Linked DNA regions of Homo sapiens. The protein of the gene in region 4 purifies or fractionates together with the protein of the main gene of each other region. This does not show direct contact. Each region holds a gene or a part of one and is shown on either strand. Other genes may lie near its edges. The genes, in order: MYB, AZGP1, RNLS, SERPINB3, ANXA2, LGALS7 and JADE1.

Evidence for each region.
Region 1: the proteins of SERPINB3 (region 4) and MYB purify together in Homo sapiens (co-immunoprecipitation; one large-scale study listed by IntAct). This does not show direct contact.
Region 2: the proteins of SERPINB3 (region 4) and AZGP1 purify together in Homo sapiens (affinity purification with mass spectrometry, with the first as the bait; one large-scale study listed by BioGRID). This does not show direct contact.
Region 3: the proteins of SERPINB3 (region 4) and RNLS purify together in Homo sapiens (pull-down; one study listed by IntAct). This does not show direct contact.
Region 5: the proteins of SERPINB3 (region 4) and ANXA2 purify together in Homo sapiens (affinity purification with mass spectrometry, with the first as the bait; one large-scale study listed by BioGRID). This does not show direct contact.
Region 6: the proteins of SERPINB3 (region 4) and LGALS7 purify together in Homo sapiens (affinity purification with mass spectrometry, with the first as the bait; one large-scale study listed by BioGRID). This does not show direct contact.
Region 7: the proteins of SERPINB3 (region 4) and JADE1 purify together in Homo sapiens (affinity purification with mass spectrometry; one large-scale study listed by BioGRID and IntAct). This does not show direct contact.

The regions. Positions count from the first base shown.
Region 1 is NC_000006.12:135,215,272-135,219,517, reverse strand, and holds the end of MYB (transcriptional activator Myb), read right to left. Parts: intron 4,120-4,246; exon of another isoform or gene 4,018-4,119; intron 2,638-4,017; exon of another isoform or gene 1,655-2,637; coding exon 1,538-1,654; 3' UTR 346-1,537; downstream 1-345. UniProt on the Homo sapiens protein: Transcriptional activator; DNA-binding protein that specifically recognize the sequence 5'-YAAC[GT]G-3'. Plays an important role in the control of proliferation and differentiation of hematopoietic progenitor cells.
Region 2 is NC_000007.14:99,966,052-99,970,198, forward strand, and holds the end of AZGP1 (zinc-alpha-2-glycoprotein precursor), read right to left. Parts: intron 2,380-4,147; coding exon 2,104-2,379; intron 1,236-2,103; coding exon 952-1,235; 3' UTR 679-951; downstream 1-678. UniProt on the Homo sapiens protein: Stimulates lipid degradation in adipocytes and causes the extensive fat losses associated with some advanced cancers. May bind polyunsaturated fatty acids.
Region 3 is NC_000010.11:88,576,446-88,580,691, reverse strand, and holds part of RNLS (renalase isoform 1 precursor), read left to right. Parts: intron 1-4,246. UniProt on the Homo sapiens protein: Catalyzes the oxidation of the less abundant 1,2-dihydro-beta-NAD(P) and 1,6-dihydro-beta-NAD(P) to form beta-NAD(P)(+). The enzyme hormone is secreted by the kidney, and circulates in blood and modulates cardiac function and systemic blood pressure.
Region 4 is NC_000018.10:63,654,349-63,659,291, reverse strand, and holds the end of SERPINB3 (serpin B3), read left to right. Parts: intron 1-661; coding exon 662-779; intron 780-1,879; coding exon 1,880-2,022; intron 2,023-2,305; coding exon 2,306-2,461; intron 2,462-3,230; coding exon 3,231-3,635; 3' UTR 3,636-4,095; downstream 4,096-4,943. UniProt on the Homo sapiens protein: May act as a papain-like cysteine protease inhibitor to modulate the host immune response against tumor cells. Also functions as an inhibitor of UV-induced apoptosis via suppression of the activity of c-Jun NH(2)-terminal kinase (JNK1).
Region 5 is NC_000015.10:60,356,321-60,360,566, reverse strand, and holds part of ANXA2 (annexin A2), read left to right. Parts: intron 1-3,330; coding exon 3,331-3,421; intron 3,422-4,246. UniProt on the Homo sapiens protein: Calcium-regulated membrane-binding protein whose affinity for calcium is greatly enhanced by anionic phospholipids. It binds two calcium ions with high affinity. May be involved in heat-stress response.
Region 6 is NC_000019.10:38,770,537-38,775,431, forward strand, and holds LGALS7 (galectin-7), read right to left. Parts: upstream 2,982-4,895; 5' UTR 2,957-2,981; coding exon 2,951-2,956; intron 2,568-2,950; coding exon 2,479-2,567; intron 1,495-2,478; coding exon 1,293-1,494; intron 604-1,292; coding exon 490-603; 3' UTR 432-489; downstream 1-431. UniProt on the Homo sapiens protein: Could be involved in cell-cell and/or cell-matrix interactions necessary for normal growth control. Pro-apoptotic protein that functions intracellularly upstream of JNK activation and cytochrome c release.
Region 7 is NC_000004.12:128,864,821-128,869,066, reverse strand, and holds part of JADE1 (protein Jade-1), read right to left. Parts: intron 1,212-4,246; coding exon 1,094-1,211; intron 1-1,093.

The DNA.
Region 1 (4,246 bases), on a different chromosome or scaffold from region 4:
CCTTCCAGGTGCCTTCAGGCCTGCACCCTGTTGCTCTCCTAGCCCCTGCCCACATCTGTGGTATCAGTACATTTGTGAACGAATTCCCCTTACAGCATCCGCACTCAAATGCCGCTAGACCCTGACTGATGCATTCTGGAAGATTCCTCCCCATTGTCCATGTGATTGTTTGTGAACTATTTAACTCAGTTTGCTTGTTCTTTCTTTTCCATTGTAATGATTCCTGGCTTCTTCACACGAAGTGCATATGGTGTGCAATTATTAGAGGAAAGTGCCTTGAGTCTGCTCCATTTTCTTTAAAGTGTAACTGTTGTCCATAGTGACAAATAAGAGAGAAAACAAAAGTAGGTAAAATAAGGGCACATCTTTATTTTGCTACAAGGCAGTAAGTACACCGTCATATCTCAAAAGTTCAGTGCTGGCCATCTTGCATCAAATGTTCTTAAGGCAGTGACTGGCTATCAACCACAGTTTCTGTCTCCCCAGTTGCAAACACAGGATCCATGCAACAGTTCTGAGACCATACACTTAGAAACCACAGGGGATGCGGATCAAATGCAGAACTCCCAAATTATAAAACAGTCAGGCTACACTCAAAACAAAACATAGAACATCAACAACACACATCTCCCAAAAAAGAAGTGCAACGCATGCTTGTATAAACCAACAATAACAAAAAAACCACAATAAAAAATGCAGAGTCTCCCAAACAAGTTTTCAAATGTATTGCAGAAGGAAAAAAAATGTATATATATATAAAATTAAAAAGTCTGAAATACTAGTGCATAGTCAATTACCTAACACCAAGTTTCTTTTCTTTCTGTCCAAGCTCTACTGCCCCTCTGATACTAGCAGCATGTCTACAGGCTAAGACCATAGCAGCAAAAAACGTTTTTCATTTGGCATTTACAAAATTAAATTACTGAATAAAAATATAATTTTTTATAAAACTATTTCTTACAGTAATAATTTTTAAAGCAAGCTAACAGAAAACTCATAAAATGGTTTGGTACAATAAATGTACCTTCAATGTCATTAACCATAAATGAGCATTTACAATCTGGATTAAATGTCACATGGTATTAAGTCTACACTTAGAGTAATGCTTTTACTGATTTTTAAAAATATATGCATATGTTTAGTGATCGAGAAAAGTGAAATACTGGAGTACCTTTTAATGTGTCAAATTTCAAAAAACCCATCACAGGAAAAAATACTGATCTGTTGGATCCTTTAAAATACAGATAAATCATTTTATGTTTTTTTTAAAAAAATCTGCATTAAGATATTAACAACTGGCTACAATTCATTACCTAATAATTTAGGTAAGACTGTTATTTATTTTTAAAAATCCTTTTAGTTGGGTGAAATCCAAGAAGACTTCATTCAACTAAATGCACTTGGTGCTGCTCTCAACTGTTGTACCACAACAAAAATAGGTTCTTCTCCCATTCATGAAAAGTTTCATGTTGAGGAATGATATATCCCAAGTCAACTTGAAGTGTTCTGAAAACCATAATGCTTTTCTGGAAATGTCTCACATGACCAGCGTCCGGGCTGAGAATGCATTCACGTATTTACGAGCTTGACTGGAAGATGTCATCTGCTCCTCCATCTTTCCACAGGATGCAGGTTCCCAGGTACTGCTACAAGGCTGATGGAGAAAGGGATGGCAACAGGAGCGTCAGACAAAGAAGCTCATTCTATAGACCCAGCAGGGCCAGCACTGACCAACAGATGGCAAGTGGTTGACACCAGGAAGGCTTTGTCAGATAGAATCTTACCTCCCTGGCCCCCAGAAATCCGGTGTTCTTAAGGGATATGGATGATCAGAAATTATTTGTTAAGAGGGAAAACCCATTCCAAGCAGCTTCATAAGATATAATCCCATCTTCATATTTTAATGCCTTCCGTCTATTAGGCAATTTTACAAAGCTGGAGACAGGAATGAGCATTATTCTCCAGATACCTAAAGTGAGCTATGGCCATCTACTCACTAAGCAAACTGCTGAGTGCTGTAGCCACAGTGCAAAGCAGCTCATGCACGCACTGGAATTGATCAACACCTGCTAAGTGTCATATATATGTTTTCATCAATTACTTTAGAAATATTTATCAGTATAGTTTAATTTTTTTCCTTTTTTTTTTGAGACAGAGTCATGCTCTGTCATACCAGGCTGATCGGTATTGGTGCAATCACAGCTCACTGTAGCCTCAGCCTCCTGGGCTCAAGTGATCCTCCTACCTCAGCTACCCAAGCAGCTGGGACTACAGGCACGTGCCACCAAGCCCCACTAATTTTTGTATTTTCTGTAGAGACAGGGTTTCACCATGTTGCCCAGGTTGGTCTTGAACTCCTGGACTCAAGTGATCTGCCGGTCTTGGCCTCCCAAAGTGCTGAGATTACAGGCATGAAGCCAGTATAGTTTAATTTTTAAAGATACACTAGAAGATACAAGATGGACCTAATATCTAAGGACAGCATCTCCATGCCAGGGACAGTGGCACTTCACATTTCACATGCATTATTTCATTAAAACAGCACCATCACCTCGGGAGGCAGGTTCATTCTCTCTCTAGACAGGCTCGAGAATGGAGACAGAAAATGGAGGTAACTTGCCCAAGGCCACTCTGTAGGTAAGTGGTGGACTGGCTTTGAACTTTGCTGTCTCCAGCTCCTGCGATGCCTCTGTGTTGCCTCAAATGCAAACATGTACTATTTATGCCCCACTTGGTTTCCAAAAGGACGTAAGATGATTAGAAAAGAAATACAAGACAACAGAGTTTAAAAATGTGTATAAAGAAGAGTCATAACAGGGAAACAAATTTGGAAAAAATAAACACAGTTGGCCCTCTGCATCTGTGGGTCCCATATCTGTGGGTTCCACATCCATAGATTCAATCAATGGCAGATCAAAAATATTCAGAAAAAAATAATTGCTGTGTATTGAACATGTATAGGTGTTTTCCTTGTCATTATCCCCTAACAATATAACAACTATTTCCATAGCATTTACATTGTATTAGCTATTATAAGTAATCTAGAGATGACTTAAAGTATACAGGAATGAACGGGTACAATGTACATTATTCCAACGATAAATACACTCACAGCCTCGACTTTGACCACTATGCAATACATCCATGTAACAAAATTACACTTGTACCCCACGAATGTATACAAATAATAAAAAAAATTATATGGTAAGATGTGTGTAGATTATATGCAAACACAATGCTATTTTATATCAGGGACTTGAGCATCCCTGGACTTTGGTGTCCTTGCGGGTTCTGAAACAAATCCCCCATGGACACTAAGGAACAACTGTAACATGAAGATGGTATGAGATTTGCACACGAAACACCAGCATAAAGCACAGTGCCCCAGCTAGATGTAACCTCCTGCTTGACTCTGATCTCTCTAGCAGTCAATGCAGAGAGGGGAACAGAAACAAACAGATATAAGATTTGGTGGCTGTAAGCTCAAAAGGAAACCAGTGGGTTAGAAAAGGCACTATTCCTGGTATTGCTATCTGGAGGGATTATTTTCCATGGGACAAAAGAATAAGAAAGGCCTTAGCTGTTCAGAGCCTACAGTGTCCTTTATGAGACAGAATGGACACAGGTGAAACAGGAGGAATAATAACAGGCCGTGTGCGCAGGTTTGTGGTGTTGTCCATGGGAAGAGGGGATGGGACACTGAGGAACTGTCAAGGCAATGCTGTGGGGAAAGGGTGAAAACAGCTAAGATTAGGGGAGAGAGAGGTGGAAACGCAGGGATGTCATCCAGGGAGCGAGATAGCAGGAAAGAGGCAGGAAGCTGCAATTTGTACATTGCCAGTGGGAGGGGATGTGGAGTGGGGGAGGGCTGAGAAAGAAAGGGTTAAACGACAACATAAAACAAGCCCTCACTATAGGCACCGCATGCCTCTAAGTGTTATTGATATAACTCCTCTCATTTAATTCTCACACAAAACACCTGTGGCATAGCTACCATTCACTGCATCCATTTTACAGACCAGGCAATTTGAAAGGAAGAGAGGATTTAGGCGCCATACTCAAGGTTACCTGGGTAAGAAATGATGGAGCAAGAATGTCACCCATGGGACCACACCCCTGGTGAGTACCAGACGCTGCCTCTAATTCGAGTTCTTATCAGAAACAATAAAAGGAACCTGGGAAGTTGTGTGCTCAGGGCACCAGGGCCTTGGAATCCAGGAAAGTGCTGAGATGGGGTGTGAGAGTC
Region 2 (4,147 bases), on a different chromosome or scaffold from region 4:
TTCTCCCCTCCTGGATATTAAGAACAATATCTCATAGGGGGTGTACACCCCCTGTGGTATTGGGAGTAATGTCAGCTTCTCACCTTTTGGTTATTAAGAACAATGTCACGGGGGGAGGATGTAGACCCCTGCAATATTGGGAGTAATATCCTCTCCACCCCTGGATATTAGGAACAATATCAAAGGGGGGGTGTACAACCCCTGCAATATTTGGGTAATATCATCCTTGTCCCCCCTGAATATTAGGAACAATATCACAGAGAGTTTAAACACCCCTTGTATATTGGGAGAGATATTCTCCCCTCCCCAACTGGGTATTAGGAACAATATCAAGGGGGGGTGTACACCTTCTGTGATATTGGGAGTAATATCATCTTTCTTCACTCTGGACATTATGAACAATATCACAGGGGGGTGTACACTGGCAAGTAATATCATCCTCTCCCTTCATGGGTATTAGGTACAATACCACAAGGCGTCTAGGGACACCTGAACAATCCCCAAGGGAAAGGGGGTTCAGGCCACACTTGGGATTGCCCAGGTCAAGGTGCCCAGGAACCATGGCCTCCAGGGGAAACCAAGAGTTTCAGATGAATTCAGTGCTTGAGGGCAGAACCAATGAGAAAATCTAGTCACATTTCTACAGCGCATCACCGTTAAAAAAAGGATTCTCTGTTATGCTAGGCAAGGAGGGATGATTATTTATTAGCTTCTACAGATTAGACAATGGGGTGGGGGTGGGCTCAAGGTGAGATGATTTTTTGGGTCCAAGTCTACTCAAGACAGGCATCCCAGTCTTCGGTCTCCAAATCCACCTCCTGTCTGTCCCCCCACACTGCTCCTCAGGCCTTGTGGATCCATTGACTGTGATTTCTGTGGTTCAGCTCCCACATCAGGCAGGAAGGGCAGCTACTGGGTCTGAGATCCCACATTGCCTCCAACCCTTGCTTCCTAGCTGGCCTCCCAGGGCACCACGAGGGGCTGGGCCAGGCTGCTGTGCTGCACGTGGCAGGAGTAGGGGGCTGTGTCCTGCGGGGGCACTGCCACCACCACCCAGGACTGGTAAGTGCCATTTCCATTGTGAAGAACATCTCCCCGTAACTCAGGCTCCTGCACCTCGCCGGCCCGAGTCCAGTGCACATCAATTTTCCCTGGGTAGAAGTCGTAGGCCAGGCACTTCAGTTTCTTCTTTTCTCCTGGGGCCTGGTGGCTGGTGACCACCACAGAGGGAGGATCTGTGGAGGGATAGAGTGTGACACTGCAGGCTTGAGGTGGACTTCTCCCGGCCCAGGTCTCTTCCTACCCCCACCCCTGGATGTCAGCGATCAGCAGAGCTCGAAGCTCTGTACCTGCCCACCCCCAGCCCCGGGAGACTTTCCAGAATATCAGGGAAGGCTGACGCTTTCCCTCTTGCCCAATCCCCACCTCACCCATGTATTGACTCTGACGGCAATAAGTTGTGAATGCTCCGTGTGCTTCTCCATGTTTTCCCACATCTCAGTGGGCTTTGGAGTTCTGTCCCCCAGTCTCAGTCCAGCTGCTTGGTTCAGCCCATGCCTCTATCCAGCAACCACTTCCCTGCAGCACTGCACAATCCTGAGTCTCACTACGTCTCCAATCCAAGTCTCAGCTTGCAGCCATCAATTCCGCTCACACTGGCTTGCTCTTGTCCTTCTGGGGCTGACATTTTACACGCCTCCCTTCTCTCCACCACCCAGATGGGAGGCATCATTGTAGAGATAAAAAACGATGGGATTTGGAATCTGAAATCTGGAATTTGAGTCCCAGCTCTGCCTCTTACAGACAGTGTTACCCTCACCTCCCTAACCTCAAGCTCCTTGTCTGTTAATTGGAGATGATTTGGGGACACTCATCAAGAAAGAATGGCCTTCCTGGCCCATTCTGCCTGAAATTTTGATGATGTTCTTTTTGGACCACAAATTATATTATCCCAGGGAAGGAATAAATCCTAAAAGATGAAAGCTGGGGGTCTGAGGGACATCCAGGAACAGATGAGACCGGACTAAGATGTTGCCTGAGCTCCTAGCCTGAGATCGTCTTTTATTCTGGGCTCAGTACTGGGGAGCAGGAAGCAGTGAGTACCTTGCCGGTCCAGGATATTTTTGCTGTATTTCAGGTATTTCCGCAGAGTCGCAGGGCACTCCTCCTCCAGGTAAGCCTTGGCCCGCTGCACGTAGACTGGTTCTGCCTCCCACTTCTGCTTGGTTATCTGGGCTGCTGGGTCGAAGGGGACCCAGGCTGGGATTTCTTTGTTGAATTCAATGTAGTCCTTTCCATCATAGTAATATTTCCAGAATGCTCCGCTGCTTCTGTTATTCTCGATCTCACAACCAAACCTTCCCTGCAATACGTGAGACCCTGAAAACTCCCCCGACCCCACAGAGAGACAGTCAGCCTGGTGAGAAATTTATCAAAATAACTCTTAGTCTTGCACATTGGGCAACCCAAAAGAAATAAAGGTTTTTGCAATTCAAGCATGCAATCCCTTTATCAAGACAAATAGGTTATTACTCCAATATATACAACAGACAGAGAGGGGCTAACTCAGTTTGGTTTGGCATTTCAGGTTTGTCTCAGATGAGATATGTTCCTCCTTAAGAGAGCTACAGCCTGGGCGCTGTGGCTCATGCCTGTAATCCCAGCACTTTGAGAAGCTGAAGCGAGTGGATCGCTTGAGCCCAGGGGTTCCAGACCAGCCAGGGTGATATGGCGAAATCCCACCACTACAAAAAATATAAAAATTAGCGCAGCATGGTGGTGCATGCCTGTAGCCCCAGCTACTCAGGAGGCTGAGGTGGGAGGATCACTTCAGCCTGGGAAGTCAAGGCTGCAATGAGCCAAAATCACACTACTGCATTTCAGCCTGGGTGACAGAGTGAGACCCTATCTCAAAAAAAAAAAAAAAAAAAAAAAAAAAAGCACCAGGCCCAGTGGCTCACACTTGTAATCCCAGCACTTTGAGAGGCTGAGGAGGATGGATCACCTTAGGTCATGAGTTCGAGACCAGCCTGGCCAATATGGTGAAACCCCATCTCTACCAAAAATATAAAATTAGGCTGGACGCAGTGGCTCATGCCTGTAATCCCAGCAGTTAGGGAGGCTGAGGCCAAAGGATCACCTGAGGTCAGGAGTTTGAGACCAGCCTGGCCAACATGGTAAGACCTCATCTCTACTAAAAATACAAAAATTTGCTGGGTGTGCTGGCACATGCCTGTAATCCCAGCTACTCATGAGGCTGAGGCAGGAGAATCGCTTGAACCTGGGGGACAGAAGTTGTAGTGAGCCGAGATGGAGCCATTGTACATCAGCCTGAAAGACAGAGCAAGACTCAGTCTTAAAAAAAAAAAAAAAATTAACCAGGAGTAGTGACACATGCCTGTAGCCTGTAGTCCCAGTTATCGGGAGGCTGAGGCAGGAGAATCCCTTGAACCCAGGAGGCAAAGTTTGCAGTGAGCTGAGATTGCATCACTGCACTCCAGCTTGGGTGACAAGAGCAAAACTCCATCTCAAAAAAAAAAAAGCTACAGAATATGAATATATTTCTATCTCTTCTATAGCATCTCTTCTAAGGACAATTATTTGTTTGAATTTATGCTGAGTCCTGAGGAAGCTGTCACAACTACACCAAAGTGTACTTCCAAATTGGATAGAAATTATTTGTGATTTCATATGAGTAAAGGAAGGCTCTCTTTTTCTCTCAGTTCTAGGAAGAGTTCATATCATCACCTAAGTAACCCTAATCTGATCACTTCTTTCTACCTTTCTGGTGTTTGATATCTTTATCCCAAATCTCTAAAGCCCCAACCTTCTTGCCCATTAGCCACAACTCTCAGAAATGGACCTCATAGGGCAGGGGACACAGCCTCTTTGTTCTGATGATAAAAGCAGGTGTTTACCCAGCACTGGTTGGTGCTGTTGGCATAGACTCTGAAAGCTCTCAAGCTGTCTGGGCTCACGTCCCAGGTCTCTCCCCAGCCCCCCACCCCCACCTGGTGTGTTGCCTGAACTGGAGCCACTCAACTCCCTGTGCCTCTATTTCCTCACCTCTGAAATGGCAATGCCAAGAGCACTGTTTTAGGGGGCTATTCTGAGCATTATATATGCTCATAGATGGGCCTGGCACAAA
Region 3 (4,246 bases), on a different chromosome or scaffold from region 4:
TTATTCATAACCTTTGCCCATTTTCTATTAGGATTTTCATTTGTTCCTTATATATTTTATGAGCGTTTTGAAAATGGACCTTTTAAAAAAGAAAATAGAATTTTTCTTGGATAATTGATGATTATTTTTAAAGGAGAATGAAGCTTCTTGATAAATCATAATTCAGTTAAGTACCCAAGTTGAGATAACTGAGAAAGGATATAGGCTAAGAATTTTTTTATAAGCCATTTCCAGCATAATTACTGTTTTGATCTTTATCATCAAATATTACTTATTGAGAACCCCAAGAATCCTTGACACTGGGCATCAGAGAGGTCAGTAAGATTGAATAAACAACATGAGAACATAATAAATACCATTCTGGCTTAGACCATTTCTCCATTCGAGATTCAGTATATAGATGGTATGTTAGACTACTCCAGAGAAACAGAACCAATAGGGTATGTGTGTGTATGTATGTGTGCATGCATGTGTATATGTGAGTATGGATAAAGAGAGAGATTTATTATAAGGAATTGGCTCACATGATTATGTTGGTTGGTAAGTCCCAAGATCTGCAGGGTGATCCAGCAAGGTAGACACCCAGGAAAGCTGGTGGTATACTTCTAGTCCAAAGGCTGGCAGGCTCAAGACTCAGGAAGAGCCAATGTTTCAGTTCTACTCTGAAGGCTGGAAAAAAGCTGATGAGCCAGTTCAAAGGCTTTCAGGCAGGAAGAATTCTCCTTTATGTGAAGGAGGATCAATGCGTTTGTCCTATGTAGGCCTTCAACTGATTGGATGAGGCCTACCCACATTAGGGAGGGCAATCTGCATTACTTGATCTACTGATAATAAATGTTAATCTCTTCTAAAAACGTGCTCATAGAAACACCCAGAATAGTGTTTGACCAAATATGTAGGCATCCTATGGCCAAGTCAAGTTGACACATAAAATTGACCATCACAGATGGTGACACTATTGGACGTTTTGTAGAATGTTACTATCAGCTTCATATAGTGTGGCCATATCACTTTAAAAAATCTCATTTCCACCATGATTTTCCCCTGACCCAGGTTGGATGAGTATACCTATTGAAATCATCAGGTACTTACTAACTGATATGCGTGCATGCATGCATGTGCAGGAGCTTAGAAAATGATATCCCAAAATGGAGCCCTCAGAAGTAGCTCTCTCTGACCTTCTCCTGCCCTCCTATCTCTGGCCTTGCATTCATCCCTGAGGCTAGCCCTAGAAAATAGAATCTCTTTTCCCAAGGCAGGTCGTAGAAATAAGAACCCCTTTTCCCCCCAAACCAGCCATAAAACCTAAAACTATCACTCTAGCTTTCCCCTGCCTTCCTTTGTAAAAACTGGCCATAAAGAAATTATCTGACCTACCGTGTTTGATTGTAGCTCACAACAGTTCCAGAGAGGGTCATGACCTATAACCATAAAGAAAGAATGCTGCACAGAGAGGACAAGAAGAATCTAGACAGACAGGCCTTGGTGGGTTTTACCAGTTTGTTAGCCATAGATATAACCCTTTGTCCAATCATATTGCTGCAGAGCTGTCCATACTTTGTTGAATCTAAGCATAAAAATGGACTCCTGTATCTTTGGGTCTTCAGTCTGAAGGTTTCAGTGTCATGCAAAACTATGATTAAATAAATTTGTATGCTTTTTCTCATATTAGTATGCCTTTTGTCAGTTGATTTTTACTGAAATTTCACCCCTACACATGCATATATACATACATACACATATCCTTTTGTTCAATAAACATTCATTGAATACTTACCATAATGCCAAACATTGTTCTAGGTACTAATGATACAAGAACCAATGTCCTTGCCTTCATGGAGTTGATGTCCTGGCAGAGAAACATCTTTGAATACATTGCATCTATCTCCTTATTTTGTTATGTGTTTGGGGGAATACATACGTTTTAACTTCCAATTTTGCTTTTTAAGCTTTTCAGAGAAGAGATTATTTTTAATTCCTTGTACCTCACTCAGAAACTAATAGTACCTCCTACATAGTAGGTAGAGTGATATAAATGTTAAAAATTTATTTTATATCAAGTTCATGGTCTATTTAACTTGAGTTTATATAAATTTTTCTTTGTTTATTTTAATGCTATTTAATGTTATTCTTGTAATACTTCGAGATTCTCCTCTACCCCGATCTATTATCTATAGGATTTGTTGGACCCTATCTATAATATTTTTAATTTTATAATTATATCCCTTTTAAACATTCTTTAAGTCCCTTTAACCTTTCTATTCTATAAATGGTCCACAAAAACATTTTGGTTTTTCCACACTATAAGCTAAGACAGTCCCTGAAATCAGAATGACCTGGATTCCAGTTAATGTCCTACCATCCCTTTCTGTTCATGTAATATTAGGAAAGTTTAAAATCTGTACCTCAGTTCTTTCATTGAAAAAAATGAGCGTAATGAAATGCAAAAATGAGGGTACTTACTACAGAATATTGTAATGGAAGTTCTTGCTACAAAGTGTTGTGAGGAATGAAAGATATAATGCACTCAAATTCAAGCAAGTAGTAAGCCAGTCACATAGTAATCTCTTGAAAAATGTTAGTTTAAAAAATATTGTACTTGAATGAAGCTGACCTTCATATATTCCTTACTTTAAGAAATCAAATTGCCAACTATTTTCAAAAATACTCTATATTTTGGAATCTAGTTGAGTTTAAAACCCCACAATCTGATGGACCAACCAGTGGTCATTCAGATTGGGACCAGACTCCCAGGGCAATTATTTGTCTGGGATATGCCTAATCAGGCATGCTTTAGAATAGGTTCAAACCTTTAAAGCCAATATTTAACTAGACCAATTTCCCAGAACAAATAGTAAAAGGTAAAGGAAATAGATGCTTTCTTCTTGACCTTATGTTCTATTTTAATTTATTGTCCGATGTGTTCACATTAACCTCATTGCAGAGAAAGCTGTATTTATTGGCATCAATTTCACTGACTGCCTGCCTTCTCCATTAATACAATCTTCTTGAGTGAGTGAAACATGATTTTCTTTTGTTCTTTTTTTATACTAGTTGTCATTATGCTGGGGTGAGAATTGACAATAGCAAAAGTGATTCTAGCTATCAGTTATTAAGTGCTGACTATTTATCTAATACTACCTGAGGTACTTTACGTATGTAGTTTCTAATTCTCACAGTAAATTTTCAAGGGAGTTAATCATCATCCCTATTTGTTAATGCGAAGAATGAGACTCAGGTACTTTGTCTAAGGTGGCTTGGCTAGTTGGTAACAGAACTGAAGTGCCTTTGCAATTAATCATGTTGTTTTTTTCTATTAAGTCTCTCATGGAGGGCAATGAGAGGTGCTCATACTCTCCAATTTAACATCTATTTTGTAGAGCCTTCTCTTTCCTTATTGATTATTTTCCTATAGTATGAAGATTGTACCCATCCCACCTGGTGCTACGTGTCAGTAGACACATGGTTCAATAGAACAACCTCATAGTTCCCTGTGCCCCTAGTTTCCCTCTTTCATCAGTTAATTCCTGACATAGGGGGAAGTGGATATTGAAGAGTAATACCACCTTAGTTCTTTATGCAACCTGGGAAATTGGTCACCTGATGGTTCCTGCCTATGACATGGAAAATGATGGGCCAGGTCCTTTTGCTTTTGAATAAGGTCCCATGTTACTAAATTATTCAAAAAAGATGAATTTAGCTTCCAGGACACAGAGTGAGCAGCTTTTATTTAGCTTGTCCTACCAATAGGGAGGGCTGTTGCTGCATTTATTTGTTTTTATTTTATCATCTACCTAAAAAGGACATTGGCTAGCGATCCAGAAAGTCAACATTTGCAAAGTAACCTGTCAAAATTGACAAGATCAATTTATTAGAAAAAAATGGTTTAGGTGGCAGATGCCATTAGCTAGGATGGCTTCTGTATTGTAATATTTACTTTTATTATTCTCTCTCTTTTTACTTTTGTGCCTATTTTCTTTCTAAAATTGATAGAGGGGAAGTGAGTCTGGGTGGTTCTGTCTCAAAATTTCTCCCAGCAGGTGATCCTGGCACTCATCCGTAACGATGTCCTTTTTAGAGAAGCTAGAGGATGGCATGAAAACCAGGTTAAGCATTCTTCTATTTACTTCAAGCTGTGTAGTCAGTTAGAGATGGTTCACATCACTTCAGGTCCCACCTGAGCAGTTCTGACTGCTGCTCACTAAAACCTATTTGTGGGAAATCATAGGAGAAACATAAACTTGGA
Region 4 (4,943 bases):
GAGCATTTACTCAGAGTGCAATAGCTCCGTTTCCACAACTCTCCCCCACTGGAGTGTCCCAGACCCTAACAATACATCACTGAAGTGTGGATTTAGGGATAATCTTGTAATAAAAGAGGAGGTTGGGTAATAGAGTGAGTAAGAGTAATAAGTAATAAGATACCATCGATAAACTGGCACTGACTCAGTCACATACGATACATCTTGGTGGGAAATGTATGACTAATGGGATATTATTGGAATGGGCAGGCTTGGGTGAGTTCCTGAGAATAGTTGAGGAAGTACCAGGAAATACTGAATGCACAGGATGAAAGATAAAAACAAAGATCAGAAACATCATGGTTGAAATTACTGGAAAGAGGTCTGAGAAGCAATGAATCTCCTTCAGGGAAGCCTGCTCTGCAGTTTGCAAACCACAGCCTCTTCTGCTTCTGCCTTTTGCCAGATGATATTGACCTTCGGTGACCTCTTTCTTGCGCCAGCCCGCACTCCGCTTTTGCATTGCCTACATGGCACCAGTATAAAAATATGCATGGACAGGAGATACTGCATCTATTCAGGGTCTGGATTCAGCTTACTATAATTATAAATAACTAAATTTGGTAATATATAGTTACATAAATTACTCTTACTTCCTACTTTCTTCCTTCATATCTCAAAGGAATATTTAGATGCCATCAAGAAATTTTACCAGACCAGTGTGGAATCTGTTGATTTTGCAAATGCTCCAGAAGAAAGTCGAAAGAAGATTAACTCCTGGGTGGAAAGTCAAACGAATGGTAGGAGAGCCACCCATTATAGAAACACCTTTGAGAAATCTATGCGAGTGAGCCCTATGCCTGAAACTGCATGGGGGACCATGGGTGGGAATTGAGATGGCTTTGCAGGGAGGGAAGAAGAGGGCACTCCAGATGAAGAGTTTTTCCAAATGATTATGAAGAGAGCCTAGGGGAGCCAAGGAGGAAATCACAGGAAGCCAATTAGAAGAAAACATAGCCGGAGGATTCTTTGCTCATGTTCCTGGATGACAATAGCTTTGTGGATCCCTTGTCTCCACTCAGGTCCAATTTGAGATCATGTCCTTTACTTTAAATCAGAACCAATATTTTATGATGAATATTTAAAAGGAAACATTAGAAAGCATCTCCCTTCCCCTTTACTAATTGGGAAACAAGCAGCTCTCTGGTAAATCACCCTTTTGCCATCTGAACTAGAGCTGCCTGGATCACATCTCTAGCCACAAGTTCTGCAGGGATTATCACAGCTCTCTTCCCCATCAAGGGCAAGAGCTTAACAAATTCTCCATTCTATAGACATCTATCCTACCTCCCACCTCTCATTACAGGCCAAACTTACAGCAACTCAACATGAGAGTGAATAGGAAGATACCCCCGGAAGTAGTGTCTGACAGCACAGGACATGCGTTTCATATTACAGAGCTCATGTCACTTGTCCTAAAAAGCAGTCAGGGCCTACTTCCTCTGAATGGGGACCCCGTAGTTAAAAAAAAAAAAAAAAAAGTAGGAAGAGGAGGGAGGGAGAAAGGAAAGACACATGTTGAAAGAGTAGACAAAATCAGTTTATCAGTATTCCAAATCAGATGAATGGACTCATTCATACACAGAGAACGTGAACTCCTTCTCTATCACAAGAAGTGATGTCTCCATTAAGGGCAACTTTATACGACTGGAGCCTTGAAGAAAGCTGCATCTGGTGAACCACTGGTCAGTGAGTCTAACAATTCAAAGATCAAAGTCAGTGAGTCTCAAGTAGGGATTTGGGTCAATAATTAACGATCAGTCACGAACATTTGCAAAGCATCTTCCAGACAAGCCATTTGTAGCTTGTGTAAAAGACTCTTTTATTCTTTCCCTTGCAGAAAAAATTAAAAACCTAATTCCTGAAGGTAATATTGGCAGCAATACCACATTGGTTCTTGTGAACGCAATCTATTTCAAAGGGCAGTGGGAGAAGAAATTTAATAAAGAAGATACTAAAGAGGAAAAATTTTGGCCAAACAAGGTATTGTCTATATTTTATTTATATAATGTAATATGTTAATAAATTTAAACATTTCTGATGGAATGTACCATGACAAGTAAAAAATAAAATTGTTCATGTCTGTTTTTTTGTTGTTTTAGTCTTATAACTTTATTTAGTTAGGAATTCCTGAAGAAGCTATTGTCTCTAACTCATTACATTCTTGGATTATTTCTTAAAAGAAGGATGTGTTGATATCTCAATAATATTATCTTTTTGCCTTGTGTCTCACTTGGTATTTGTTGGACACATTGATTTATTGTAGAATACATACAAGTCCATACAGATGATGAGGCAATACACATCTTTTCATTTTGCCTCGCTGGAGGATGTACAGGCCAAGGTCCTGGAAATACCATACAAAGGCAAAGATCTAAGCATGATTGTGTTGCTGCCAAATGAAATCGATGGTCTCCAGAAGGTAAGAACTTGCATCTACAACTCTTCCTTCTACTGCCTGACATTTTTCCAAAGATACCAAGTTTAAACAAGGTAAAAGCTGGTGACCGAGTTGCCTCAAAATAATGAAAAATTCTAAATGAGGAATGATGACTCACCTTCATATTACAAAGATTTAAGCATAGGGCCTGACACAAACTGAAGGCATAGTTAATGATTAATTTATTAGAGTTACATGCATTGGATATCAATTTAATGATATTATTATGCAGCAATTTAAACTTGACTGGGAGAAATATATAGCAATGTGAGGAAAGTTTACGAATACACCAAGTAAAAAAGGGAATAGAAATTTAGGAATTTGGGGAATTGCAATTTAATAATTGCAATGTGTACTAAATAATGTATACAGAAAAATAAGATGAGCCTATTAAAAATTGACACATGTAGTAGGCTGTTGGCACAAGAAATAGTGATATATATAGTTCATTGTGTACAAAATAATGTAATCATATTTTTACATGTGTATCATACAGTTGTATACATACATATGTACACATTACATATACATAAAAACTTGATTCTGTTTATACACATACACATATAACCCAATGTATTTATATATCCAGGACTCATATTTTGCCTATTAGAATAATAATATCTAATAAAGTGAACCTTCTGTATTTCACATTTGTTGCCAAAATAAGGATTCTCCACATAGTCAATTCATTGTTAAGGTGTATTAGAAATCAACAGTTAGTCATATCAGTTTCTTTTTTCCATTTGTATAGCTTGAAGAGAAACTCACTGCTGAGAAATTGATGGAATGGACAAGTTTGCAGAATATGAGAGAGACACGTGTCGATTTACACTTACCTCGGTTCAAAGTGGAAGAGAGCTATGACCTCAAGGACACGTTGAGAACCATGGGAATGGTGGATATCTTCAATGGGGATGCAGACCTCTCAGGCATGACCGGGAGCCGCGGTCTCGTGCTATCTGGAGTCCTACACAAGGCCTTTGTGGAGGTTACAGAGGAGGGAGCAGAAGCTGCAGCTGCCACCGCTGTAGTAGGATTCGGATCATCACCTACTTCAACTAATGAAGAGTTCCATTGTAATCACCCTTTCCTATTCTTCATAAGGCAAAATAAGACCAACAGCATCCTCTTCTATGGCAGATTCTCATCCCCGTAGATGCAATTAGTCTGTCACTCCATTTGGAAAATGTTCACCTGCAGATGTTCTGGTAAACTGATTGCTGGCAACAACAGATTCTCTTGGCTCATATTTCTTTTCTTTCTCATCTTGATGATGATCGTCATCATCAAGAATTTAATGATTAAAATAGCATGCCTTTCTCTCTTTCTCTTAATAAGCCCACATATAAATGTACTTTTTCTTCCAGAAAAATTCTCCTTGAGGAAAAATGTCCAAAATAAGATGAATCACTTAATACCGTATCTTCTAAATTTGAAATATAATTCTGTTTGTGACCTGTTTTAAATGAACCAAACCAAATCATACTTTTTCTTTGAATTTAGCAACCTAGAAACACACATTTCTTTGAATTTAGGTGATACCTAAATCCTTCTTATGTTTCTAAATTTTGTGATTCTATAAAACACATCATCAATAAAATAGTGACATAAAATCATTTTTGCTTTACATTTTCTCTCTGGAAAGGGAAAGTGTCCAGTTACACACAGGAAAGACAATTTAGAGATATATTAATCACAAACAAAGGAAAATTAAAAACAGAGTAGTTCATGATGAGCCTGGAGTAGAAGGCATATCCCAGAACAGGAGGAGCCTTGTAAACCACATTAGGAACTTCCTATTTTATGCTAAAGGGATAAGAAACTCATTACAGGCTTTGATGGTTGTTTGTCAAAGAGGGGCATAAAATTATCATATCTTCATCTTGAAAATACATCTCTGGTTACTCTGATATCAATGGATGAGAGGAAAGAACAGTGTGGTTACCATATATAAATCAGGAAATCATTAGAGTATTGGGGGTGGAAATGAAGAGAAAGAAACAGCCTGGCAGAATTATTTAGGAAGTAATAGTTAAAAAAAGACATCTAAGTTTCTGAGCTATCTGACTGGAAGGATGGAAGAAAATGTTGTTTTTGAGAGAAAAAAAAGACCATGGGTTTAAATTTGTACTTGATGAATTGAGGTACTTTTAATATTCAAATGAATTTGCCTGGCAGGTACTTGAAGATATTGATCTAAATCTCAGAAACAGAATATGATCTGAAGCTCTAAATTTGTGATATTCAACATAAATACTTTAGAGTTATTGGGATAAACATGGTAATTGTAGCTAGAAGCAAAGATAAGATCCTAGGGAGGAAGGATAAAGTTAGAAGAAAGAAGAATCTGGAATTGACCTTGAAGTATATCAATATGTGTAAAGATCATGAACTGATCATTTTTATTTTCCAGAAAGTAGCTTTTCTTAGGGTTCCATATTTACTCCCATAGATTCTTCCCAGT
Region 5 (4,246 bases), on a different chromosome or scaffold from region 4:
CCATCCTTTCGTGGGTGTTTCTTCCTCCCATACTCTCTCTGTCAGTACCATTTGTTTCAAATTCAGGCAGAATCAGAACATCATAGTGCATATAAGGGGTAATTCTGGATGAAGAATCGTACCTGAATCGTACCTGTGAGAAAGTAACTGTGAAGTCTCAATGCACGTTATCTTTTATGTTTTTCTTTTGTAAAGTTCTTTTGAACCTGGAATTTTAGGTTAAATTAAGTAAAAACTGTAGATTGGAAACCTCCTGAACTTTGTGCATACTTAAAATATCAAGTTTTTTGTTTTGTTTTGTTTTGTTTTTTGAGATGGATTTCGCTCTTGTTGCCCAGGCTGGAGTGCAATGGCGCGATCTCAGTTCACTGCAACCTCTGCCTCCCGGGTTCAAGAGATTCTCCTGCCTCAGCATCCCGAGTAGCTGGGATTACAGGCATGCGCCACTACGCCCAGCTAATTTTGTATTTTTAGTAGAGACGGGATTTCTCCATGTTGGTCAGGCTGGTCTCAAACTCCCGACCTCAGGTGATCTGCCCACCTTGGCCTCCCAAAGTGCTAGGATTACAGGCGTGAGCCACCGCGCCTGGCCAACATCAAGTTTTATATAAATGCAATAGATGCACACACATTAATGTATGTTGTACTGCAACACATTTGGACCCTTTTCTTAGTGTGGGTCTGCAGCATTTGAACAGTCCGACACTGCCCTCTGCTGATATACATGGGTAAAGTCTGCGCTGTAGATGAGGGAAACCATTGGTCTTGATTTTTTATTCCGAGTCTGTTTTCTCTGATGCCACTGTTCCTGAATTATGAACAGTCTGAGCTGTAAGCCTGTCACCAGAGCTAATGTCACAGTTCAGTTGTCATCCTTTTCCCAGAGAACACAAGAGTGAGGGTGCTTCGGACACTGGGCATCTCCAAAGCCTGGAATTTGATAGCTCAGGGCTGCTGTAAGATTTGTTGTTAAGTCTCTTTCTTCCTTTAGTTCTTCAGCTTAGCCCAAGCTGTGCTCAGTTTATTTTAGCGGACTTGTCTGAGTTTCCTAAGTAGACTGTACTGCAGAAAAGACGTCATTAAGAATGATAAAATGTCGACAACATTTCATGATCCTGGTTGATAAAAATAGCGCTCCTGAAAACCGAGTCTGTGGACCTTTGGAGGCAGGGATGAGTCAGCCTCTCCTAGGTTTCTTCTGACCATCAACACTTCAGATCAGTTTGTCTTATTTTCATCAAGAATCTATTTAGTTGTGATTCGAGTGGCTTTACTGGTATCTATTACTAGGTATTAGGGACTTGAAACAGACCTTTTTGAGCTGTCAGTCACTGTTGTAATCTATGTAATTGGGCCCAATGGAAGGTGCTTTAACTGCTGAAGCTTTGACCCTGTGCCAGCTCTTCCATTAGCTATCACAGTTGAATACCCGTCCAAAATCCATAAAGCTTGAAGTGACATTAACTGAACTATGCTTAAAAAAAAATCTGTTTTGACTTCTGGCAGTACCGGTGGCAGTATCTGCCATATGTTACAGTAGAATTTGCCCTTGTGATAGGAATTGTGGACAGTCTGTGGAGAGTTTGGGCCGGGCTTTGGAAATTGCCAAGGTCACCTTTGAATGTAGACATAAAAACACTATTGGAATTCTCAGATATTACCACTGGTATATCAGTGATGGAAGGAAACACATCTTACATTATTCTGCCTGTCTTGCAATTCTACAATGTCAGGATATAACATTTCTCCCACTGTGTGTTATTTTTAGACTATATTTCTATCATCCTTGAGATTGAACAACTGCCTCTCAAAATATTCAAAGATACTCGGTAGTCATTTAATAACATTTGTGTAGAATGCTGTATGGACCTTTTGCTAACAAGGGGAGAATTTTTGGCTTTGCTGGAACCTCTACAAATCATGATTAAAAACTCAGAAAGAAGAGCCATTGGCTCAAAGGTTAGATGAAGAATAAAATTCAAAATTAACCATTAACCTGAGGCTTAGCTTATATTATACAAACTACTTTTTCGGGGCATATAAACGCTAATAAGTTTAATTAATAGCTGACACGCTTTTCATGTGGGTAAGTTTCTTATTGTATTAACACCTTATAATTGATTTACATTTTAAACAGTTGTAATTCTACTTAGTTCAAAGTGATAGTTCCATATTCGGAAAGACAAGTATTAAAGAATCCTGATTATTAAATCTTGACTTTGATCATGAAGCCAGCTTTGAAATACATGTTTCATTGAGTCCTTTCAAGCTATCTGACATGCTCAAAAGTGTATATATTAAATTTGAATACATCACCCATCAAATTCTTATTCCTTAATAAAGTGTTGGTGTCTAGGTTTATTTGGCACTTCATTATTTCTTTTTGCTTCCCTAAAGTGCCTGAAGAGTGCATAATTATCAAGCAAAAATGGAAGGACAAGAATGAAATTTTTAACATTAACCCAATTTTACATTTCAAAGAGTGCAGCTAAAAATTTTTTCTTAACTATACCTTTGCCTGGTAAAAAGACTTACTCTAACAATGCTGGCTGCAAGTGACAACATAAAATTTCTGTATTCCTTTATTTTAGCGAGAATTGTTTAACAAAGAAATTTCTAATCTGTTAAAATAGTGAGTGGTTATTGTAGAAAGTGAAAAATAATAATAAGAAAAAGTTACTTTATCTACCCACAGCAAAAGGCAATTGCCAGTTTTAGTATTTTGGCATATTCTATTGCTGCCTCTTCCTATTCACTACTTTTTTTTTTTTTTGAGATGGGGTCTTACTCTGTCGTCCAGGCTGGAGTGCAGTGGCGCGATCTCGGCTCACTGCAAGCTCCACCTCCCAGGTTCACGCCATTCTCCTGCCTCAGCCTCCCAGGGTAGCTGGGACTACAGGCGCCCGCTACCATGCCCAGCTAATTTTTTGTATTTTTAGTAGAGATGGGGTTTCACTGTGTTAGCCAGAATGGTCTTGATCTCTTGACCTCGTGATCTGCCTGCCTTGGCCTCCCAAAGTGCTGGGATTACAGGCGTGAGCCACTGTGCCCAGCCCCTATTCACTACTTAAAAAAAAAAACCATATTAACAGTTGAACTCCAACATGCCAGTTCCACCATCTTGTGCTCTGGTGAAGCATTTTTTAAAGGAATAGAAAATGCCATTACTTTGTGCTAAGGGGTAGGAGTATAGATTCTTCAGAAGGAATGTAGAAAGCAGGATGCTAACAGACCCAATCCATGTTTGCAATTTACTTGATGGAGATCAGAGAAGTAGGCTAATGGTGGGGAAGCATTTCCCTGCTGATGTTCGTGCTTCCTGGTTCACAGGGGCTGGGAACCGACGAGGACTCTCTCATTGAGATCATCTGCTCCAGAACCAACCAGGAGCTGCAGGAAATTAACAGAGTCTACAAGGAAAGTGAGTAGCTTGATTTCTGTGATTCATCCTCTCAGCCCAATTTATGTGACTCTATCATGGCCACTGGGGTTAGGGTTCGGGCTAAGATGCCTGCATTAGTGATGTGCAGAAGTGCCTGCCACCTTGACTATGCAGGCAAGGTTGGCTGTGGTCCAAGTTTCTCTCCTTCACCTCCTCATTGCCTGCATTTTGATTATTACATTCCACTAGAACTTCTGTGTTAGAAGAAGGGTAGACAGGAGGGAAAGGAGAGAAAACAAAACTTGTTTTTAAACAAGATCGGATGAGGAGAAGTAGCAAGTATTATATATGGATTCCACTTATTGGGCGCTGTTCAGTGTCTGCTCAAGAGGTTGCCAACTCTGGACTGTGGATAATTGAAGAATTACAGCAAGAGACCCCTGTGGACTGGTGCACACTTAGCAGTATAGAAGGCTATGAGGGGAATAAACAATGCAACTTACATCGCTACTGCATTTCTTTTTTGTTTTACTTTTTAAAGTTATTATCATAGTTTTACATATTTTGGGGGTACATGTGATATTTTGGTACATGTATTATATATAATATGTAATTATCAAGTCAGGGTAATTGAGATATCCATCACCTCACACATTTATCTTTTTTTTTGTATCAGGAACATTACAGTTCTTCTCTAGCTACTGTATTTCAATATAGATGCTATTTTGAATATTGAAATATACTTTCATTCAAAAGCATTGTTTAATTCTTAGTAGTTTTTGCCGCTGTGCATTTTCTCAGTGGACAGTAAAGCACAATTGTGTGTGTGTGTGTGCGTGTGTAGACCTCCAATTTTTTTGATGT
Region 6 (4,895 bases), on a different chromosome or scaffold from region 4:
AGGGGGATACGGGACCCAGGGACCCGGGATCTTATAACACGCTTTCCACCCGTAGGATTGGGGCCCACAAATGACCAGAAAGGTGGGACTCATTCGCCCCCTTTGCAGATGGACCCATGTTGGCGCCCCTTAGATCTGCAGTGGGGGCACCAGGACCTGCGGTGAGCGCCTCTGCGCCCCAAACGCCAGCAGGTCCGCCCGACCGCATTCCCAGCTGGCTTGCTTTGCACAAATGCTGCGTCAGGGCACGCCCCACACCCACTCCTTCCCAGATCGCGACCCTCACGCCTTCGCAGACAGAAAGTGTCCTAAGCACAGGCAGGCTCAGAGCCCGCCTCCGCCTCGGATTCGCTGTGTGGCCCGGAGCCAGTATCTTGGCCTCTCTGGGTCTCAGTTTGCTCATCTCAGTGAATGGGACACAGACACAGTCGCGCTGCGGGCTAACGCTTTATTTGCCAGCCAAGGCCCCGGGCCCGCCTGGGCTTCTGCTCAGAAGATCCTCACGGAGTCCAGCTGCACGTCCCCGCCCACCTCCACCAGGCGCACGCGCGCCAGCGGCAGGCGGTGGCGGAAGTGGTGGTACTGGGCGTCCCCAACCACGGCCTGCAGGGGAGGGTCGGTGGTGAGGATTCCGGAGGCCCGTGCTGGGTGGCCCTGGGGAAATCACTCATCCCCTCTGGGCCTCAGTTTCCTCACTGGGAAAATGGGGCTATTGTTCATTCTAACTCTTGCGTGAGGATCAAACGAGTTGACTGTGTGGCACAGTAAAAAGAGGCTTTTTTAGTGCTGGTAATGGATATTCTCATTTCAGCGACCATTACCCGCTATTAAAGCGCAGAGGAGGGAGGTGAATTCGCGTAAGCTGTGGGTGGTGGAGGATCTGCCGCCACTCCCACCCGCCAATCCTTGCTAGGACGAGTTCCTGGGCGCTGTTTCCAACCCATCCCTCCCCATGCCTCAAACCCCGGACCTCAGGAAGGAATGAACTGGGAGTAGGGTCTGGGATGGCGAGTCTGGGCCACGCCTTCCCGCTAGGACGCCCACCCCTTGGACACTTGGCTGGTGCTCGCCTCGTCCTGACCCTGCTGTCTCTCTGTCCCTCGGACCCAAGTGGGAGTTGTTTAGGCGAGAGAGAGGGTCGAAGGACACCCTTCTCCGCCTTGGCCACGACTTCCCTACCCCCCTCACCCCGCCCCGAACCTCCCTGCCTTCCACCAATAGCCTGGCTTTGCCCAACCCTCTGCTCCAGGGACCTAAGTCTTGGCGTCCACGCCCCTGTCGCAGAGACGCACCTTGAAGCCGTCGTCTGACGCGATGATGAGCACCTCGAAGGGCTGCCCGCGCTGGAAAGGAACGCCCGGCCCGCGCTCCTCGCGGCCCCAGGAGCCTTGCTCCTTGCTGTTGAAGACCACCTCCGACGTGTCCAGCCGGGGGTTGAAATGCAGCGCGGCATCGGAGCCCTGCTCCTCCCCGCACAGCAGGTTTACATGGAACCTGGAAGAGGAGGATGGTGGCCGTCAGGGCTCAGAAACCACCCAGACCAAGAAATGTTGAGGGTGAGGAATACCGATGTCTACAATTTACTTTGAATGAATAAGTAAATGAAATGTTGGCTGGGTGCAGTGGCTCACCCTGTAATCCCAGCACTCTGGGAGGTGGAGAAGGGAGGATCGCTTGGGCCCGGAAGTTAAAGACCAGCCTGGGCAACATAGCGAGACCCCACCTTACAAAAAAACGAAAGAACAAACAAAACATAAACCGCCCAGACCAAAGTGAAGGTCTTATGGACTGGCACTCCCCATTCCCAGAGTACCCCCAAATTAACAGGGACCTGAAGACAGGCACACACCGCAGAAGGAGAGGTAGGCGACTAATGACCAGGGAGCTTAGATTCCCAAGGCAGCCAAAATATCATGAGGCCCTTGGCAGAAACCTACCCAGACCAAACTCACTACGCTTAGGGCAGGGTGCCCTCATTTCCAAAGAGCCTGGGAGCTGCCCAGGAGGTCTGGGTGATAGCCAGGGTGCTCCTGATGCTCAGGGAACCCTCAGCTTCTACAGGACAAAGAATAATACCAGGAACCCCAGTATTTCCAGGGTACCTCAGAATCCAGAAGGCCCGAAGTTCCTTAGCCAGGAAGTCAAAGGATGGCTTGGCAAGGACTCCCAGGGTCCAGGGTGTCTCCAGGACTTGGAGTATTTCCAGAGTTCCCTGGGACTCAGACATGGAAGTCATAGGACTATATCTAGGAACCCTGAGATTACCCAGGGACCTCAAATGCTTAGGGAAACTTAGGGACCCCAGCCACAAAGGCACGGGGGCAAATACGAATACATCAGATTTGAGGTCAGAAATGGCCTCGGACTCCTAGCCTGGTGGATACAGGTGGCCTCGGGCCCCTACTTCTGGACTGCAAAAATTGGGAGTCAGCTGATCCTGAGACCTGTACCCTTTACCCCTAGGGCCTGGGGCCTCACCTGCTGGCATTGGGAGGAACCAAGCCGCGAATTCTCAGCACCGTGCCAGGGCGGATGCCCTCGGGCAGTGAGGACTTGTGGGGGACGTTCTGCAAGAGTGGGGTGCAGGGGCCACTGTGAGCCGGTGAGACCGAAGGAGGGAGGCAGAAGGTGGGTCACCCCTCAGAGGAGCCGACCAGGGCTGAGACTGGCAGAAATCAGTGGAAGAGGAAAGGGTGGCGGAGAGGCAGGAAAGAGACCAGAAACAGACAGGGAAACAGATGGGGAGAGCAACAAAGACAAACAGAAAGATCCTCAAAGAGGGCCCCAGAGGAAGCCACAAAGAGGTAGAGGGGACAGTCGGGATGGGGGTTACCCGGAGGCCACAGCCCAGGCCAGTCCGTGGCACACTCACTGCCCACTTGCTCCTTTGAAAGAGGAGCCCCCAGCCCCCTCCCTGCTTGGCCCCGCCCCGGGCCCCTGGAGCACTCACGGACATGGCTGGGACCGGGTTGGGCAGCCGTGGTGGTGGGGCCTGCTGGGGACCTTAAATAAAAGCAGGGCGGGGCTGGCCCTGATGACTCACCCCACCCCTTCCCACCCACCACCCACACCTGGCACGGACCCTGGCCCTGGGGCAAGCCCGGCGAAGCGGGAGTGGCACCTCTTCTTGGGGGCCCTGATCCCCCCATCACCCAGGGCCCGGGTGCACTGCCCCTCTCCTAGGAGCTGATAATAAGAGGGAATGTTTAATAGTAATAAACTCACAGCAGAGAAGGCTCCTTGTGCCACTGCCCCTCCACCCCTGTCTTCCCGCTGCCTGGCACACGGAGAGCCTCTATCTCATTTCATGTATTTATTTGTTAGTAATTTCTCTTATTTTATACACAGACATATTAGGTCCTGGGAGGCCAATCTGGGTGGGAACTCCAGACCCTTCTCTCCAGCTGAGAACCTCCTGCCTGGACTGATCCGTGCTGAAATCTAAGCTTCTGCCTCTGTAATGGAACAGCGGCCACAATAGGAGCACTAGTGACTGACAGGGTGGCTTCATGGGTTCACAGGGGGCCTGCCTGATCCCCTCAGCGCTGCACCCCTGGGTCCTGGAGTGTGCCCAGTTCATGGAAGTCCTCAGTCAGGAGGGGTGAAAGGAGGGGATCCACTAGGACTATGCCTGTCATTTCCAAGGCCCCTCGGCTGCCCAGGAGATGCAGGAAATCACTGATTGGGACCCCATCATTCCAACAGGGAGGAGTATGGGTCACCCCCATTGTACAGAGGAGGAGGCTGAAGCTGGGATGGGAAGCGATTTGCCAAAGGCAGGAGCGTGCAGGACCCGTTGCCCTGACCTCTGGCTCTCCTCACCTCTGCTCGCACCTCTCCTGTGGGTTCTGTCTCTGGGGCTGGCTGTCTCACTCTGTCCGTCTCTGCCCCTAACTCTGTCTACCACATATTCCTGTCCCACTTCTCTCCTTCAAGTCTCTCTTCTTCCTCCTTCCAGGACTGCTACCATCATGCCACCAAGTTTGTAGGTCAGGATGAGGTGGGTTTTGGGGTGGTGGGTGGCCTAGCATTCCATCACCACCTAGATCAAAAGCAGAGCAAGGCGGGGACCCTCCCGCCAGGCCCGAAACAGCCCCCTTGGGCCTAAGACTCTGCAAGAGAACTCAGGGTTGGGGAATTGGCTTGGTGGAGGGGCGGGTAGGGCTGAAAGATGCTTCTGAAAGGCAGGGATGGTGTGGGAGCTGAGCAGAAACCACTCCTAGCAGCCCAGCAGCCCTCCTGGACCTTTTCCACTCGCCACTCCAGCTCCTGCCCCACCCAGCAGGCTGCTGAGAGGCCTGGGCAGAGGCAGGCTGGCAGTGGAAAGTTTGGGTGGAGACAGCAGACCCAGAACCATCCTCCACCCTCTGCGTCCCAGGCCCCCAGCCTCTCGCCCCCTCCCCACACACTCCAAGGCACCAAGCTCAGGGACCAGTTCTTGGGAACATGAGCTCAGAGAGGGAGGCTAGCAGCTGCATTTCAGTAGGGGCTGCAAGCACCCCCATTCTGCAGAGGACAAAACTGAGGCTTAGACAGGGGCCACCTCTCAGTCAAGGAAGAGGCCAGCCCCTCAGCTCCAGAGGGGTCTTTGTGCCAAGGACATGTCATGGGCACGGACAGAGAGGATAGCAGGGTGTCCGGTGATCATACCACCAGCCCAGCTCAGTTAGTTCCCGAGAATGTTCCCCTGAATGGTGGACTCCATTGTTCTAACATTATTGACCATTCTAAAGAAGACACTCTCGCCTGGGCAACACAGCAAGACCTCATCACTACAAAAAATAAAAATAAAATAAAATAGCCCAGTGGGTTGGCGCACATCTGCCTGTAATTCCAGCTACTTGGGAGGCTGAGGCAGGAGAATTGCTTGAGCCCAGGAGATCAGAGGCTGCAGG
Region 7 (4,246 bases), on a different chromosome or scaffold from region 4:
AATTGGTTAGATAAACCAGAATTTGGATTTCAACACAACAGGTTATAACAACTTCTTTGTTCTCTGTGCACCATAATAATCTAGATGGAGTGACAAAAAGCCACAAATGCACAAAAACAAGAGTGAATCAACTATGATTGCACAACGCAAGCACCAAGAATGGTGCAGCTAGAACTTTAAAGGGCAGTCCAAGGCAGGAGAGAGGCTGACTATCTTCCAATGAAGTCCAGTCTAAGACCTACCTGTTCCATGGGTCCCTAATTCTGCCTGATCCACACTCAGCAGCTCTGCTTCTCTGAAATCCTTATACTACCTACTTTTGGGGGCTTATGATCACAGAATATAGGGCTCAAATGCACTTAAGGGGTCTTGATTCTAAAACAAACTTTAAGATCAACGGAATCTCAGAGAGGTTAAACAACCTGCCCAACTTGATCTTTGCCCTTGATCTCCCAAGTAACTGATGTGTTGTCCAGAGTAGAGGAAGTATATACCCTAGTTTTCTTTTTCTGTTTGCCTAGCCCAGGGCAATATAAAATAGAAGACACTAAATAAATATTTGGTGCTCAATCTCAGAAATAGTCAACAATCCATCTACACAAAAAAAATCTACTGTGAACATTATCTAAAAATGGACTGTGTCTTAAGTACAGTCTTAACATATATTGACCATATTTACCATGTTACAGATAGAGCCCAAGGCTGAATATAAACCTGTTAGGTATCCCCATGATGTGTTTACCAAGTACTGTGTAATATATAAGTCACTGTTTCATTTTAGTCTCTCAATTCCAAGAGGTAGCTTGCGATATCTCCATTTTGCACATGAAGAAATTAGGGAGACTCAAAAGACTTTCATGTGTTTGCTCAGTAAGCAGAGAACACAGGATTCCACCCATATTTATAGAGGGCAAATTCATAGCTTTTTCCCTTAAACATGATGCCTCAAATTAAAGACTTCCTTTAAATATGAACGTCTATGCTTCTTAAATTCTTCTATAAGAAAATTAAGAAATGATTATTTCTTCCTCAACAGTGTTAAAGCTTACAAACCCCTGCCCTATACTTTGACCTACCAGGGCTTAATGCATACCTGAAACTCTTTCTTGCTCCAAAAGCTTAGTGTAAAGATTGAATATCTGTTCCTGGACTTTGCACACAGACCGTTTAATCTTTTCCCTGCGGGTCACCATGTAAGTGAGGTTCCGAACCTAGAATGTAGAGAATAAAGATTCTAAGTAAGCAATACAGTATAACAGTACTTTGGTGCTTTTTAAATTTCTTTACCTAAGAGAAATTACTCCTACTAGGGCCTTGACAGATACTTGAAATCAATAGGTACTTTAAACATTTTATCCAATCTCTGATCTCCTTTTGGGCAGATAAGAAGGATTCCACATATAGCCCTCAACATAGGCAGAAGCAACATCGAAGAGGGTTAGGGACCCACAGGAGTGGGAGGGACACCTAGAGAACTCCTACAAAAGTCCTGCCTCCTCCATCACACCTAACCCATCCCGGCACAGAGGCCATTGGTGTCCAAGTCAAAACTTGCAACCTCTTGCCAGTCGACTTTGCTAATTATTGCATCAATATCTTCTATTACTTGGATGGCCAATGGCTTTAAAGCAGTTCAGAAGCCACTTCTGCACTTTATCAACTATCTTCTGAGGCTGAACTGGGTAAACATGGGGCCAAGGGTCATCAAAGTGGAGCCCCCTGCACCAGGCCCACTGGAAGACCAAATGGTTACCAAGAATCCTAGTAAATGTCTTTGTCAACTGCACACTGAACTCACTGAAAGGCCTGGAGTTAGCAGGTAGCTTATGTGTTGCTATGAGGTGTGCGAATGCCTAGGAAATTTCCAGCTTTGCCAATGATTTGCTGGTTAGACATCTCCAGTCCAGTTCTCTGCATCATCACTTGAAAAACTGGTATTGCCCTCTCCCGATTCGCTTGTAACTGAAAAGACCCAGTGCTAAGAGTTGGCTCTACTTCCTATCTGATGTGTGACTGCTTTGGATCACATAACCCTAACCTATGCTCAGTAATCAACATTTAGATTTGTTCCCCACCTGTCATCACTCAATACACAAAACTTAAAGAATTAGTCTCTAAACTCCCCTAATCCTTCAGTCCTAAAATCTTCTATTGGTCAACCTGATTAGATTACACGGACCTGCAAACACAGATGTCAGACACAGCACACCAAATACACAATTAAACCCTTCTTCAGGAATATGTGGACAAGACCTCCTAAGTAATCTCAGTGGCAGGAGTGGTAGCATCTTTATCTGACCACATCTTTCCCATTAGCTCCTACAGGCATGCCTTCACTTTCCTAAAAATATCCCATTATGAGCAAACTCTTCCCCTGACACCTTTATAATTTTTTCCCCATAAACTCAATAAAGTAGTATCACCCTACTTTAAGTGGAAAAAGTCCAAAGGTCACCAACCTTTTCTTTTGGCAGTGAGGACAGCAACAAGCATCAACAAGCCTTGTGAAGACACAAAAGATTTTGCACTCTGGTGTAGAGCGTAAGTGTAGACTAAACCCTAATAATTCCAGCTGTGCTGAAGGCAGTCTCATTTGCAAGAGGACATGAAGCATTAAGAGAGACAGAACACAGGCTTTCACATTTGCATTATGGTAATATCTCCTGGCCTAAACAGGAAAATGCCAAGTCAGGCTTCTCCTGCCCCTAACAAATTCACTTTACGGATCTTCCCATCTTTTTTTCTCTAACAATCCCTTATGTCACTAACATTTCCTGTCTTATTTTAAATTTAAAGAATTGAGAATAAAAACACTCTCCCTGTCTCATAGTAAATATTACATGGATGTCAATCAGCCTAGTTAAGGTAGTTTCTTCCCTTCTCTGACAGCTGCACACCCTCAATCCAAGAAGCAGGTGTCCTTTATAGAAATTCTCACCAACTTGGGAATGGAAGTGGCTAACATCCTCCTCTCTTCGATATTGTTCCACCCAGGGGAAATTAAGAGTGAAGCTCAAGAACGAGGGGCCAGACCTAGATCCATAGCAGATTCAAAACTTCTAGGAAACAGAACCATTTTTACATTAACAAGGAATCTGACTCCTGGAAATAAAAAATGGAAACAAATCCTGACATCTTAGGAGCAGACAGGTTGCTCTCATATTCAAATCAGACATGTAATAGAAATACTTACATCTCTCTTACTTGAAATTATCCTTAAAAATGGAAAACGGGGAAGCCAGGGAATTTGAACTTTGTATATTATTCAAATTTAATTTTGGTAGCTTTGACCACACCATGGCTGCTAAATAGAAAAATCCCACTGCTATTCCTCATGATCTCTGATGGGAAATATCTAAATGTAAACCCAAAAAGCAAAGGGCATGGTTTTCAATCGGAACAAATCAGCCCTGACCAACTCCACTTTATAGTAGTGAGGACTCTAAACCTGACTTCCCTTATGCATAAAGTTCCCTATAGGACAACGCTCAGCAACCTCCACCTGCAGAGCTGGACTGATGCTCTCCCATCCTCAAAACACATCCAGCTTGTCCCTTCTTCCTGCACCCGTTCCACCAAGCTCCCTCCCCTGCTTTATCTTCTCCCAACTGCCTGCAAGGAGGTATCTTAAAAAACATTTAAACCATCTCCAGGTGCACTCTCACACCACCTTAAACCTGATCATCCCTTTCCCCTAAAGCAGTGTTCCCAAACAGAAACATGGGGTACCCACAAAACAGAACCACCCTTTGGAGGTGGGGCCCATGAATCTGCATTCCTAAGTTTCTGGGTCAGGGACAACACCCTGAGATACACTGCTCTAAGACATCTAAAAGTGGTTTCAGTGTTTTCTTGAATCCAAAACTGTTTGCAGCACTAAAGTTGAACGTGCCTTTTGTTCAGGGGACACTGTAGCCACTACCAGATTTTCAAAGGTGACCATTCCACTGAGTGACTACAGGACTGCCCCCAGGACTTGGCCACTTTCCATAACGCTAGCCAGAGTGCAGTGGTAGCACGTCTTTATCTGAATAAATACTCATTTGCTGAACTCACATTTACTGCATCTTTTAGGGGAAAGGAATGAGAGTGAAGTGGCAGCCTTGGGAATGACATGGCTACCCACCACATCAGCAACTGTGTCTTCTTAAAGTTGTGTGCTCCCAAGCCCTCCTGAAATCTACTCCTGTCACCTAACTTCCAGATCCAGAACTGGTACCCAGGTATGCAATGCCCCGAGGTGTGT